Linked DNA regions of Homo sapiens: region 2 is linked to region 1. Evidence: fine-mapped expression QTL. Tissue or cell type: whole blood. Region 1 holds a variant in brackets; the other region holds the start of a gene. All regions are shown on one strand. Distances are between the middles of the regions.

What was found. PIP is the estimated chance that this variant, and not a neighbour inherited with it, causes the effect.
Region 2: CYB5R4 starts here. The variant in region 1 is fine-mapped to the expression of CYB5R4 in whole blood (INTERVAL, PIP above 0.99).

The regions. Positions count from the first base shown.
Region 1 is chr6:83,536,439-83,544,547 of GRCh38, reverse strand. No RefSeq gene overlaps it. Among named protein-coding and RNA genes, the nearest start is that of PRSS35, 28 kb to the right of the region's middle. The variant C/TC (reference allele first, on the strand shown) is at 4,179.
Region 2 is chr6:83,854,958-83,863,053 of GRCh38, reverse strand. CYB5R4 (cytochrome b5 reductase 4) reads right to left here and starts at 3,365. Exons shown (of 16, transcript NM_016230.4): 1 at 3,197-3,365. The coding sequence starts at 3,271. RIPPLY2 (ripply transcriptional repressor 2) reads right to left here. Exons shown (of 4, transcript NM_001009994.3): 4 at 5,539-5,812. The coding sequence ends at 5,665. All of the region lies in intron 3 of RIPPLY2-CYB5R4 (RIPPLY2-CYB5R4 readthrough), which reads right to left. RefSeq lists a silencer at 3,245-3,294.

The DNA.
Region 1 (8,109 bases):
TTTATAGCACTAAATGCCCACAAGAGAAAGCAGGAAAGATCTAAAATTAACACCCTGACATCAAAATTAAAAGAACTAGAGAAGCAAGAGCAAAGAAATTCAAAAGCTAGCAGAAGGCAACTAAGATCAGAGCAGAACTGAAGGAGATAGAGACACAAAAACTCTTCAAAATATCAATGAATCCAAGACCTGGTTTTTTGAAAAAATCAACAAAATTGATAGACCGCTAGCAAGACTAATAAAGAAGAAAAGAGAGAAGAATCAAACAGACACAATAAAAAATGATAAAGGGGATATCACCACCAATCCCACAGGAATACAAACTACCATCAGAGAATACTATAAACACCTCTACACAAATAAACTAGAAAATCTAGAAGAAATAGACAAATTTCTGGACACATACACCCTTCCAGGACTAAACCAGGAAGAAGTTGAATCTCTGAATAGACCAATAACAGGCTCTGAAGTTGAGGCAATAATTAGTAGCTTAATAACCAAAAGAAGTCCAGGAGCAGACGGATTCACAGCCGAATTCTACCAGAGGTACAAGGAGGAGCTGTTACTATTCCTTCTGAAACTATTCCAATCACTAGAAAAAGAGGGAATCCTCCCTAACTCATTTTATGAGGCCAGCATCATCCTCATATCAAAGCCTGGCAGAGACACAACAAAAAAAGAGAATTTTAGACAACTATCCCTGATGAACATCAATGCAAAAATCCTCAATAAAATACTGGCAAACCAAATCCAGCAGCACATCAAAAAGCTTATCCACCATGATCAAGCGGGCTTCATCCCTGGGATCAAGGCTGGTTCAACATATGCAAATCAATAAACATAATCCAGCATATAAACGGAACCAAAGACAAAAACCACATGATTATCTCAATAGATGCAGCAAAGGCCTTTGACAAAATTCAACAGCATTCATGCTAAAAACTCTCAATCAATTAGGTATTGATGGGACGTATCTCAAAATAATAAGAGCTATTTATGACAAACCCACAGCCAGTATCATACTGAATGGGCAAAAATTGGAAGCATTCCTTTTGAAAACTGGCAAAGACAGGGATGCCCTCTCTCACCACTCTTATTCAACATAGTGTTGGAAGTTCTGGCCAGGGCAATCAGGCAGGAGAAAGAAATAAAGGTATTCAATTAGGAAAAGAGGAAGTCAAATTGTCCCTGTTTGCAGATGACATGATTGTATATCTAGAAAACCCCATCGTCTCAGCCCAAAATCTCCTTAAGCTGATAGGCAACTTCAGCATAGTCTCAGGATATCAAATCAATGTGCAAAAATCACAAGCATTGTTATACATCAATAACAGACAAACAGAGAGCCAAATCATGAGTGAACTCCCATTCACAATTGCTTCAAAGAGAATAAAATACCTACGAATCCAACTTACAAGGGATATGAAGGACCTCTTCAAGGAGAACTACAAACCACTGCTCAATGAAATAAAAGGATACAAACAAATGGAAGAACATTCCATGCTCACGGGTAGGAAGAATCAATATGGACAAAATGGCCATACTGCCCAAGGTAATTTATAGATTCAATGCCATCCCCATCAAGCTACCAATGACTTTCTTCACAGAATTGGAAAAAACTAAAGTTCATATGGAACCAAAAAAGAGCTCGCATTGCCAAGTCAATCCTAAGACAAAAGAGCAAAGCTGGAGGCATCCTGCTACCTGACTTCAAACTATACTACAAGGCAATGGTAACCAAAACAGCATGGTACTGGTACCAAAACAGAATCACAGACAAATGAACAGAACAGAACCCTCAGAAATAATACCACACATCTACAACCATCTGATCTTTGACAAACCTGACAAAAACAAGAAATGGGGAAAGGAATCCTTGTTTAACAAATGGTGCTAGGAAAACTGGCTAGCCATATGTAGAAAGCTGAAACTGGATCCCTTCCTTACACCTTATACAAAAATTAATTCAAGATGGATTAAAGACTTAAATGTTAGACCTAAAACCATAAAAACCCTAGAACAAAATCTAGGCAATACCATTCAGGACATAGGCATGGGCAAGGACTTCATGTCTAAAACACCAAAAGCAATGGCAACAAAAGCCAAAATTGACCAATGCGATCTTATTAAACTAAAGAGCTTCTGCACAGCAAAGGAAACTACCATCAGAGTGAACAGGCAACCTACAGAATGGGAGAAAATTTTTGCAATCTACTCATATGACAAAGGGCTAATATCCAGAATCTACAAAGAACTCAAACAAATTTACAAGAAAAAAACAACCCCATCATCAAGTGGGCGAAGGATATGAACAGACGCTTCTCAAAAGAAGACATTTATGCAGCCAAAAGACACACAAAAAAAGCTCATCATCACTGGCCATCAGAGAAATGCAAATCAAAACCGCAATGAGATACCATCTCACACCAATTAGAATGGCAATCATTAAAAAGTCAGGAAACAACAGGTGCTGGAGAGGATGTGGAGAAATAGGAGGAACACTTTTACACTGTTGGTGGGACTGTAAACTAGTTCAACCATTGTGGAAGTCAGTGTGGTGATTCCTCAGGGATCTAGAACTAGAAATACCATTTGACCCAGCCATCCCATTACTGGGTATATACCCAAAGGATTATAAATCATGCTGCTATAAAGACACATGCACACGTATGTTTATTGTGGCACTATTCACAATAGCAAAGACTTGGAACCAACCCAAATGTCCAACAATGATAGACTGGATTAAGAAAATGTGGCACATATACACCATGGAATACTATGCAGTGATAAAAAATGATGAGTTCATGTCCTTTGTAGGGACATGGATGAAGCTGGAAACCATCATTCTTAGCAAACTATCGCAGGGTAAAAAAACCAAACACCGCATGTTCTCACTCATAGGTGGGAATTGAACAATAAGAACACTTGGACACAAGAAGGGGAACATCAACACCGGGGCCTGTTGTGGGCTGGGGGGAGTGGGGAGGGATAGCATTAGGAGATACACCTAATGTAAATGACGAGTTAATGGGTGCAGCACACCAACATGGCACATGTATACATATGTAACAAACCTGCACGTTGTGCACATGTACCCTAGAACTTAAAGTATAATAAAAGTATATTTTTAAAAAAGACTTATTTTTCCCCTGTAATTGAAACTTTGTACCCTTTGACCAACATCTCCCCATCCTCACCTCCCGCCCCACCCAGGCCCGGTAGTCACCATTCTACTCTCTGCTTCTATGAGTTTGACCTTTTTAGATTTCACATATAGGTGAGATGATTCAGAATTTTTATTTCTGTGCCTAGTGTATTTCAGTTAACATATTGTCTTCCAGGTTCAACCATGTTGTCTCAAATGACAGAATATCCTTCTTTTTAAGACTAAATAGTATTCCACTGTGTATACATACACACCATATTTTCTGTGTCTGTTTATTCACTGATGGACAGTTAGTTTGATTCCATGTCTTGGCTATTGTGAATAGTGCTCCAGTGAACATAGGAGTACTGATATCTCTTCAACACTGATTTCAAATCCTTTGCATATATATCCAGAAGCAAGACAACTAGATCATTTGGTAGTTCTCCTTTATTAGAGTTTTGATAGCTGTGTATAGTATAATAGAAGAGCTTACACTAATTGACACCCCATCTTGAAGATTTGAATCATTTCATGTATGTTGTAATGATTGTAAAGGTGGTTCTCTCAGTATTTGTCTCCCTTCTCCAGCCTCGGTGACAGAGCAAGACTCCATCTCAAAAAAAAAATTGTCTCTCCTTTGTTCTCTTTTATGTTATTTACTGCACTTTTTTAAAAAAGGATAGACTCGAGACTTTGGAAGGAGTACTGAGGTTCAGAAGAAGGGGAAAGGTGGGGACATGTACAAAGAAATGAGAACTCGATGCACCGAAAGATAAATTTGTGCAAAGGCTTCTTTCTGACCCTTAAATAGACATCTTTAACAAAAGATGCCCACAATTTTGTTGATGGAAAAAGGCATGGTCTTGCAGCAGTGATTACATGTGGTTTGTGTAGAAGCACTTGTTGGAAATCAAAATAAGTGCGTATATTAGTTGAAGAGTCACATTGACCTATATTTTTGAAGCAAAATGTCTTGTTTGTTCTATTTAAAATATTTTGTTTTTTGTTAATCCTCTTGGGTTTTTTTTTT[C/TC]TGGTTAGAAAAATCATTTAGTTTTATTTTTATTTTTTGAGGGGAAATAAATTTGTTGGTTTATGTTAAAAGATAAAGAAATTATTTTAAAACATATTAATATATGTCTTTAAGTTTATAAATCAATTTGAATTTTTCCTAGGCACAAATTCTTACAGATCAAATAATCACATAATAATAAAATTGAGCTCTTGATGAGAAGACAAGCTACAAGACATTGTCATAACTTTGGACAAAACAGATAATAGTCTTGTCTACATACAAACTAACCCATAAGATGATATGTGTTGTTTTCTTAGGATATTTCTTTTTTTAATTATACTTTAAGTTTTAGGGTACATGTGCACAACGTGCAGGTTTGTTACATATGTATACATGTGCCATGTTAGTCTGCTGCACCTTGCGTTTTAAGGAAATTTGTTTCTCATAGCCTGGTTGACAGCAGATTTCATCTCTGGATACATCATCCAGATGTCATCTGTAATGAGACATATGAGGGAGTGATGTTTTGTGATTTAGTGATATAGTGGTTAACCTTAGCTAAACTCTCACGTTAATTTAATTCTGTGAATTAATTTCCACTCATCGCATACACATTCAATTTTGAAACATAAAAGTTTTCTATAATTGATTCACAGAGCAGAGTTTTCAAACTGTTTAGTGTCAGGACCCCTTTACACTCTTAAAATCTATTGAGGCTCCTCCAAAAGCTTTTATGTAGGTGGGTTATGTCTGTCAATATTTACTGTGTTAGAAAATAAAACTGAAATTCTTTTACATTTGTTTAATTTTTATTTATGTATTAGATTGGTGCAAAAGTAATTGCTGGTTTTGCTATTAAAAGTAATGTAGTAAAAGTGGCCGAACGCAGTGGCTCATGCCTGTATTCAATCCCAGCACTTTGGGAGACTGAGGTGGGCAGATCACTTGAGGTCAGGAGTCCAAGACCAACCTGGGCAACATGGTGAAATCCCATCTCTACTAAAAATACAAAAATTAGCCTGGCATGGCGGCATGTTTATCATGCTATAATGTCAGCTACTTGGGGCTGGGGCAGGAGAATCACTTGAACCTGGCAGGCAGAGGTTGCAGTGAGCCGAATCATGTGACTGCACTCCAGCCTGGGCAACAAAGTGAGACTCTGTCTCAAAATAATGTAGTAAAAGTAAAAATATAAATATTAAAACCACTATATATTAAATAAAATATTTTATGAAAAATACTACTCTTTGCTTCTATGAGTGTGACTTTTTTAGATTTCACATATAGGTGAAATCTTAGAAACTTAAAAAAGTGGTCCCGTTTTGCCATTTTTGCAAATCTCTTTAATTTTAGACTTAACAGAAGACAGCTGCATTCTCATATCTGCTTCTGCATTCAACATGTTACAATAGCCCATGTCAGGTAGTTATTGGAAAATTCTGTTGTGAGCACACTTGTGGGAAAGTGAGTGTCTTAGTATTACTGTGAAGACAGTTTTGACATGGACGTTCTGAAAGGTTCTCTGGCATCCTTAGGAGTCCCCTGACCACACTGGAGGATGGGTGCTCCAGCTGGGAAATGGGCTGGCATGGCATGAGAAGCATCCATCGCAGAGATTAAACTCCATTTCTTGGAGACTCCTTACGCAGTTTCCAATATCCAGTGACACTTTCTAAGAACATAAAGATGCTGATGGATGCTTTTGGCCAATGATAAAATTTAAAGTGTTTCTACTTGGAGATCAAAAATATTAACAAACATACTTTGTGAATTGACGATGACTTTTTTAAAGAAAAAATATTTAGTAATGGATTAGACTGAGATGGAAGATGATATTGAACATAAGAATATTGAGAGTGAACACAGTAGTGTGGTGCAGGTTGCAACCATCAGGGCTGGAGGAGGGTGAAAATTTTTAGCAAAAGCCTATGACTACAAGAGACTGTAGCCTAGAACAGCACCCAGGCCTGCAAACAGTAGCCCCACAAAGCGGCAGGGCCTGGAGCGGTCCCCTTGCAATAAAGATAAAGGGAGACAGTCACCTCTTAGTGATCATTTTCTCTGGTGTTAAACCACCCTTTGATACTAAATTCATCTCCAGACACCCAACATCCTTGTGGTTCATCTTTCTTTTTCAGTGTATGAAACATCTTTGGGGTAAGTTAACTACTTTTATAATTTGTAGCGGTATCTGTAAACCAGAACCCACAATGGTCTGAAAAGTCTTATAAATGTGTCCCAAGGAAAGTCGGAGTTATTTTTTAAATCATCCGTATTTTGGATCACGTGGATTTTGGCACTGTATTGAAAAACAGGAAATGCAGTTGTGACCATGCATGTAATATTTCAGATGTAAATTTAGGACCAGATTTTTAGAAAACCTGTCTCTTAGGGAAAAAAAATTAAGATTTAGAGATAAATTAAAAGGAACATTTTGTTTAGACCAGAAAAAGAAAGGTAGCTAGGTGTGGCAGCTCATGCCTACATGTAATCCCAGCACTTTGGGAGGCCAAGACAGGCAAATCACTTGAGCCCAGGAGTTCAGCACCATCCTGGGCAACTTGGCAAAACCCTGTCTCTAAAGAAAATGCAAAAATTATCCAGGCATAGTGGCATGCGTCTGTGGTACCAGCTACTCGGGAGGCTGAGGTGGGAGCATTGCTTGAGCCTGGCAGATTGAGGTTGCAGTGAGCCATAGTTTTATCACTGCACTCCAGCCTGGGTGACAGTAGGGACTCTTTCAGAAAGAAAGAACAAGGAAAGGAAGGAAGGAAGGAGAAAGAAATGAAAGAGAGAAAGGGAAGGAAGGAAGGAAGGAAGGAAGGAAGGAAGGAAGGAAGGAAAAAGAAAGAAAGAAAGAAGAAAAGAAAAGAAAGAGAGAAAGGGAGGGAGGGGAAGGAAGGAGAGAAAGAAAAGAAAGAGAAAGAAGCAGAGAGAAAAAGAAAAGGGAGGGAGGGAGGGAGAGAGGGGAAGGAAGGAGAGAGAGAAAGAACCAAAGAAAGAGAAAGAGAAGGAAGGAAGGAAAAGAAAGAGAAAAGAAGAGAGGGAGGGAGGGGAAGGAAGGAGAGAGAGAAAGAAAACAAAGAAGAAAAGAAAGAAAAAAGAGAAAGAAAAGAAAGGAAAGGAGGGAGGGAGGAAGGAGAGAGAAAAGAGAGAAAGGAAAGAAAGGAAGAAGGAAAGAGAGAAACAAAAGAGAAAGAAAAAGAAAGAAGGAAAGAAAAGAAAGAAGAAAGAAAAAGAGAAGGAAGGAAGGAGAAAGAGCAAAGTTAGAAAGTTAGAAAGAAAGAAGAAAAGGGAAAAAAAGAAAAAGAGGAAGGAATGAAGGAGAAAGGAAAGTTAGAAAGTCGGAAAGTCAAAAATCAGAAAGAAAAGAAAGAAAAAGAACGAACGAAAGAAAAAGAAGAAAGAGAAAGAAAGAAAAAGAAAGAAGGAAGAAGGGAGGAAGGAAGGAAAAAGAAAGAAAAGGAAGGAAAGAAAGAAAAAGAAGAAAGGAAAGAGAAAAAAGGTGTAGATGCTATTTGAGTTCAGAACAAAATATAGTTATATGACTTACTGGTTATGTTGTTAATTAATAGGTTAGTTCACTATAGAACCACGTTTTTTATTTAACTTTCTTGTCATTATTAAGGGTATTGTCAATGTTATTGATAAGTATCCTACAACACTTTTTAACATACATGTCTAAGAATGAACTCATTATCTTTTTCCCCAAGCCTAATCTTTCTGTCTTGGTCAGTGTTCTCACCATCTACCCAGTCTCCCAAACCAGAAGTTCAGGGAACAGAACACCCTCAACTCTTCTCTCCTGTATTCAAAGGCCACTAAGTATAGTAAACATTCAGCTCTCTAAATATCTCACAAGGTGTCCTCTCTTGCCTTTCTCTCTGCCTTTTCCTTACCACGGCTGCTCCAGCAGTCTCTGTATTGGGCTCTTTTGCGTCTAATCCCC
Region 2 (8,096 bases), 320 kb before region 1:
TAATTTGTAACGTAGTAACAGAAGAATGTTTAATGTAAAAGCAGACACATTCAAGGATGTTTACATATCTCACTTTCCTGAATCATATCTATTTTAGACATCCATTTACTCCCAAAGTAACCAAGTTAATAGGTCTGTGGTGCCTTTCACATTCTATCCTATCAATCTACATCATTCCATTCTGGCTATCACTGAAACTCTAGGTCTCTTGATCCCAATAAATGAAGTGTGAGAAAATGACCTTTCCCATCCCAAACTAAAATCACTCACCTCTCTCCATTCCATAATCCACAGGATAGTTAAAGCAATCTTTCAGAAATGCAAATCTAATCACAGGCTCTCCCTCCTTCAGTGGCTCCTCAGGTCACCTTACAACAACGTCTCTAAATTCCCTAGGGATTTACCAGGTCTTCACAATCTGGTCACAGTTGACTGTACTAGCTCCATGTTCTAACTTTTGCTCCTTTCCATTATATACTTTAGCCAAATGGGAACTGATTATTTGATTCCTTTATTGCTGTCAAGTACTTGCTTATAGTAGTGTTGCTTTCCCTGCATGGATCAACCTCACTCCAACTCCCATTAATTCCTCTGGAAGGCTTCTCTGATCCTCAACTCCTTAGTGGTCATACCACCCTGTTGTAGTACTTATGACTTTATAACTGAATGTTCACTATTTCATGCAACCTATGAGACTAAACACCTTGAAATCAGAGACCAAAAACTCCAGCATATGGTAGGTTCTCAATAAGTATTTGTTTACCAGTATTAATAGAAATAATAACTATCATATGTTGAGTGCATATTCTGTGTCACACTCAAGTCTGTGAGATCTGAATAAAAGCCTCAGGACAAGTAGCATTTACTGGGTGCTTACCAAGGCTGTGCTAAGAGAAACATTATCTCATTGAATCCTATGAACAATCCTATAAAATGGGTACTGTTATTCTCATTTACATCTGAGGAAACAGACTCAAAGAGATTAACTGGCAGATATGGTGAAAGAATCTAGGTCTTTCTCACTTCAAAATCTGTGCCTTTAAAAAATTACAATAAGCCTTCACTTAAGCTAGTCACTAGGTGCTTGGAAACTAAACTATGTACAACGAAACTAATTTTACCGTGGGTTAATTGACAAACAAAATTTCCTGCAGCATATTTCTGGTCACAAAAACATCACCAGACTTCTAAATAAAGACCAAAATACTTCTAATATTAAACACTGAAAGAAATGTTAGCTATATATACATTTAAGAAAGATTAATTAAAAAACAAGTAAGATAATTATTTACCCAACTATTCCAGTTCAATGTCACAGGTAGTCAGAGCCTATCCCAGTAGCTCAGGGCACAAGGCAGGAACCGACCTTGGACAGGATGCCATCCTATGGCAAGGCACACTCATACACACCCAATATTCACACAGACTGGGACCATTTAGACACACCAATTAACCTAACTTGCATATCTTTGGGCTGTAGCAGGAAACCAGAGTACCCAGAGAAAACCCACGCAGACACAGAGCATGCAAACTCCAAAGACAGTGGCCCTGGCCAAAACGAATTTTTTTTCTCATCAATATTATAACTAAATGCTGTTGAATGAAACAACACTATTTGAGAACCTTTTGTATAATACACGACCTTCCCAACTTGGTTCTATTTTCTCAACCTCTACCCATTTCATCCAAACCTGACTCAGTTTTTACATTCTCAGCATCATCTTGTTTCACAAAGAAAAGAGGAAGAAGACTGGAGTCTGACTTTTCCTTAGAATTGCACAATAATCTTATTTTGTTCTCTTTTTGGACCAAAAACTCACCTTTGCCATCGCCCCCTGTGTGACTTTTTGTCTTTGCTTCTAAGTTTTCTCCTTTAAATGGATGCTAAGAACACAGTTGGTATTTTTAACGAAGAAGGGCAGTAACTCATATTCTAATTCAGAGATTCTTTCTGGAAAGACTGTTATTCAGTCAAGTATTTAGCTTCAAGAAATAGGTCAAAAACCAATGAGAAAAATATACATGATTGGATGGCTAGATGATTGATATATGAATCAGTAAATGAAATTTCACAGCAGAACCACAACACAAGCCTACGCAATTTAGGGCAATATTTCTTAGCCAGTTTCCTTTTCTGCGAAATAGAGACAATAAAAGCTTTCACTTCAAAGGATAATTGTGAAAATTAAAGTTAATACATGCAAAGCACTGAGAATATACACGGCCACCCGTAAGTACTTAAGAAATCTCTGGAAAGCTAATGAAAACCACAGATCCCTGAACCTATATTCATTCTGAACTAGAATCAGAACGCCAGGTCTAAGTGGAGAAAAATAAGAAAATCGATAAGGGTTCCAAACGATGCTAAGACTCAAGAGTTAACCGAGTGGCCCAAGTTAAGTGGAAGTGTCACAAACGAAAGATAAAGATATGGTTACAGAATGAGGAACTAACAAATAGGAACAAACAACATTCGCAAAAGAACAAAGAACACAATTTTTATTGAATTCTGCAAATATAAAATATATCTGTACAGTATTCCACCTGTTGCTAACAGCAACTGTGCTCAACAAGAACTCAAGAGTATTATTATATTTGCTTCGAAGTTAGCAAGTGATACTAGTAGAAAAGGCAATGACAAAACAATCAGGTACCAGAGGAAGAAAGAAAGGCAGTATGTCTTGGATAGTGTCTGTAAACCTGACCTAGCTCCCCAACTCCAGAAGTCCCCATCCTTGCACGGACGGTCACTGTCGCCACTGCCAAGCCTTTCCCTCCTGCGAGGGAACCCACATCGAGTGATGTGGTACAACTCCTTCAGGCAGTGAAGAACAAAAGACCAGGGAGAAGATGAGGTTGAGGGAAGGCGGCTAATACCGAGAGCCTATAATACCGCAAACACAGTGCCTGGCTCTGTCATATAAATTTAAATCGCGGGAAAGGACTTGGAGGAAGGGAACGGATAGAGCGGGATAAAGGACCAGAAAGAAGAGGGACTGCTAGGGGAAAGGGAGGAGGTAAGGAGAGTTTAGGGACTGTAGACAAAGTGGGATCAGAAAGAGGTTGCAGGCAAGGACAGCAGGGAACGACAGCTTAGAGAGGGGTGCAGGAGCTGGGAGTTGGGGCGGAAGAAGAGAACACACTGCCAGAGCTCGAAACGCAGCGAGGGGAGAGACTCACGGAGCCACCCGCTTACCTTGCTACGCCCCCCGGAGGCGACACGCTGCTGCGACCTGGGGGCCGGGAAAGACTGGGAAGGGACGTTCAGCATCTTCAAACCCCGGCCCCGGGCCCTGCCCGGGGATCGCCGCCAGACGGGACAGCACCTCCAGCTCCGGCTCTGTGGCCGGGCAGAGGCCAAGCCCCCGACCCACTTCCGGGGTCGCCAGGGGTGAGGCGCATTCTGACGCAGCACGTCCGCGGAGGGCGGAGCCAACGGGACGGAGGGAGGGCCGGCAGGGAGGAAGTACGCATGCTCAGCTAGTTCCGCATCCCGAACTTCAGCACCGGAGCAAGGTGACAGCTATTTCGTGGAAAGATTAGAGAGTGAAGCTGTTCCTTAGCCTTGGTGCTGACCGAATGTGGGAACAAATTCTTAGTCCTGTTAACCCGGAACAGCAATGTCTGTTCATTGTTAAGCAGTACCATCACACTACTTGAAATATGGACTAAAACACACTACTTGAAATATGGACTAAAACGAATTTTAGTTTCTCTGAAATTCTTTCCTGTAAGGCACTAGGCTGTAATGCAAAGAGCATCTCACACCTTTAAGAGCAAAAATATCAAATGTCAACAGCCACTACTGTGGGGTAAGAAGAAAACCTCACCTTTAATCATCCTTAAACTTCACCTTTAAGCATGCTGAGGGCTAATGAATGCGCGAAAGACGTTAGTAAAGTCACCTTCTGCTCTATTCACCCACTCACAAATTCTCCCTCCTTATGTAACTTCCTGTCTTCACTGGGAATTGTGTACTGATGCAGCTCACCTCCAGCTGTGGTGATGAAGTAACGTTTAAAAGTCAGATTTGGTTTGCATGCCATCCCTGCACTTAATGACTGAGCTGTCTTATGCAAGTTACTTTAGTATCTCAAAGTCTCATTTTCCCCATCTGCATAATGGGTTTATTAAAGATTAAAGGATCATGTGTAAACTACATACTGCAGTGCCTGATTAATATTAGGTACTGAATAAGTGGCAGTGGCTGTTTGTGCTATTCCAACATATTAATGGGAAAAGGACCAACACTGTGCAGGTAAACACCAGGCTCTAATGCTCAAAATCTGATGGTTTTTGTTTGTTTGATTGATTGTTTTGTGTGTCCCTTGGGGAACACATAGATCTTGAGAGTAGAATCCAATAAGGGAGAAAGTTTTCAGGAGAAGAAACATAGTTCTAAATAATCCTCCCCATCCTCCTTTAATTACTAATTTTTCCTAACTCTGAACATATTGTCATGCTTTAAACTTTCTCTGTTTAACTACTTAGTTCTTAAAGTGCCTAAAAAATCAAGGTTATGTTTGCAGAATCAGAAGAAAAAGTGTGTGACTATATGTGGCCATTCAAATACAAGCATTCAAATAAGGTAGCCACCTATGACATTCACCTCTATCCATTTTTATTTGCAATTGAAATGCTTATTATGAGAAGACTGAATTTGAGCTAAAAGAACCTCATGACTATAATTAACTGTATTACTTTGACTTTGCAAATTGCTTCTGTGTTCTCTCTCATTAAATGATGACATATTCTTCTAGAGTCTACACAAGAAAAACTAATCACTGAGATTTATTTCACTTCTCGTGAGAAAACTTTTACATAAGAATATCAAAAGCAGAGAACCAGAGCAAGGAAAAGTTAATATTGTTGAAGAATGTTCCATGCTTTCCAAATTTCTTAGCTCCCCTTTGTACAGAAATGGAAGATGCTATCAACTTCTGGCCTTTAGACTCCACTTTTTTAGACTCCATATCAATCACTCAAATTTAAACGTTTTGTTTTAATTCTAGGGATCCCTCAATGTAGTACATTAAGTATTAAACATCCATACTATTTTACTACTGGATTTAAGGACTGAAGAGGAGTATTAAAATATGAGTTACTTTGCTCATCATTTATTTAAAATATCTATAATTTAAAAGCCCTAAGATTGATTCCCTTTTTCAATTACAGGTAATGATTTAATGTGTTTTTCTCCATCTGCTAAGAAATCTTTACTAATAAATGAGTGATTTCTAACATAAGTCTATTTTCTTCATTATCTAATAAGATAACATTGATATGTAACTACAACATCCAACTGGCATCAGTAGGAAATAGCAGATGTTAAAAGATTCAGTCTTGAGAATTAAATACTGTCATTCTTTGCAAAATTATAACTAAATATAAATGTGCAATTTAACGAAAAGAAAAATGTATTCTTTGTAAGCCCCAAATATTTATAATACAATCAAGACATTTGTAGATGGCACCTGTTTTAGATTCCAACATTCAATTCTAGTGTAGGGATAAAGAAAAGGCCAAATACCAGAATAATTACAAAATATTTCATTTTATTAATAATTTATATACAAATAAATTAGTTTAAAATAATTATGATACATTTGTACACTAAATTTAAACCCCACAAGCTTTGGATATAATCAAAAGTAGCTAATCAGATTAATTTTCACAGGTCAGATCCTCAATTTCATCTTCGCTATCAGAATCTTCATAAAATGAAATTGTGGCTTGAATTGGAAAATTTTTCAGAAGAGCTTCTGCTTCTTGATATAAGTAATCATAACATTTTGATTTTGGCCAAAATAGTCTGAAAGAAGCAGACAACATGTTTTATTTTTTCACATTCAGGATCTTTAAACTCATGAAATGGTCAAATTTCAAGAGCTCCATATATTTAACAATTGACTTATACATTTGGATATAGCCTTAAGATACAGAGTTAAAATATGCTACTATCACAGCCTTCATGGAATCTACCTGCCCAAGTATCAATAATTGTTTGATTATTGTAAATCTTTATTCAAGCTGTAAATTGGATCAAACAAATTTACACTAAACCCTGGATATGCATAAGATCAATGTTTACCTTACTTTGTACATTATGGATATATTTATTCTTATAATATATAGAAGATTTGTCTTCCAGTTTCTAAATTCCTTTGGAAAAAATGAATTGAGTTCTACCACTACATTAAAAACTTTAATGATAGCCAGCTTTATAAAGATGACAAAATATTATGCACCTTACAAAAAGGTGGAAATAACCTATTATCTTATTTAAAACTCACAGATTTAACTCTTATAGAAGTAGACAACGTAAGTTTAAAAATGTATAAAAACCAGTATTTTAAAATTTTTGTCTATGCACTCACAACTTGAGGCATAGAAAGACTACTTCTGACCTCAACTTTGATTCTATGTGCCTGTCTTCTCCCCATTCAACTAAATTTGTGAATATCATATGAAATGTTGAGAAATTATATATGTTTTATACAAATAACTGGCATGTAAGTATTATTACCTCAGAATTTCAAAAATCTGACAAATACTAATCTTGCCTTCTGGTCTTCATCAAGGAAAAGAAAGAGGAGAGATAAGGCTGAATCACCAAGTACAGTGCAGTCATTTTAGTGCAGGGTAAACAGCCCATATATCCATACAATGGAGTCATCCCAACAAATGGAAGATTACATTATGTTCAGTATGCTCCACTTTAAAAGGCAGAAAAACAAACAATGCAGTTTATAAATGTTTCCAGCAAAAATCATAAAAAAAGTTTATATTTTTGATGCTTAAACAAGTAACTATCAATTATTCAGTCGTTCAATAAATATTTTAGTGATCCCTTGTGCCAACATAATTCACAATTTAAAGATGAATAAATCATGGTCCCTACCCTCAAAAAGTTGACAGCTGAATAAAAAGAATAAAACACACCATATTAGTCAAGATATAAATGAATAAAAATAAAATATAAGAGAACAATTAAATTGTAACCGTACTTCAGAAAAGAAAGGAATTTCTTATATAAGAAACAATTTATTTCCTAATGCGTAACTGGAACTGGCAAACCCAAAGAATGCTAGTCATTATGATACTCTGTCCAGAATTTCTCACTGTGGGCCATTTTTCTCCCAGGGCCCGCATACTTTTCTGAGTTTCTTCCTGTTCTGATTCTTCTCCGTCTCCTTGTGGACCTCTCTTTCTCTGTGTACTGGTTAGATGCTGGCCTTCCCTCAGGTTTTCATTGAGAACATCAGCCCTCCCTCTAAACAAACTAGGATGACCTGGCCCACTGTCATGATTTCCCCACCCTACATTTACCATGGACTCCCAAGTCTGTATTTCCACTTAAGATCTTGACTCTGGGCCCCTAACTTACGTACGCAGTTCTCTACAGGATATCACTCTTTGGATGCCCCATAGGCACATTAAATATGATAAGTGGAAAACTTGACTCATGATCTCACCTCCCAAATCTGTTTTCGGCCCTAATTTACATTCTTTTAGTACAGCATTCACCTGCTCACCAGCCACAAACTTAGGAGCCATTCTGGCCTTTTACCTCTTCTTCACCTAACATATCCAATACGTTATAAAGCCTAATCTATTTTGTCATTCAAGTATTTCCTAGATTCACCCAGTCTCACCCTCACTTCCACTGTCTTACAATGGTTCATCATTATTTCTTACCTGAAAAATTGCAGAACTTCCAGTTTTACTTTTGATGCCCTGACTAAGCCTATTTAACATATAACCCCCAAGACTACCTTCGGAATAAAGCCCATGGGTTCCCAACACTACATACAGGATCAGGACAGAACTCTGTACAAGAGTGTGCAAGATTTGGCCTCTGATTACCCTGCTAAAATGACCACAACTTCACACACCTAAACTCCTTGGAGTTCCCGCAAGGAGCCACACCGTTTCATGATCCTGCTTCTCTTTTCCAATGCTATTTCTTTTGCTCCCACTTCCCATTCATCTGACTAACTTTTCCAAGACTCAGCCAGGTAACCACAACTTATAATATACACTTCCCTGACCCTTCCCCCTACCACTGACAGATTTAGGCACTTCGTGCCCTGCCC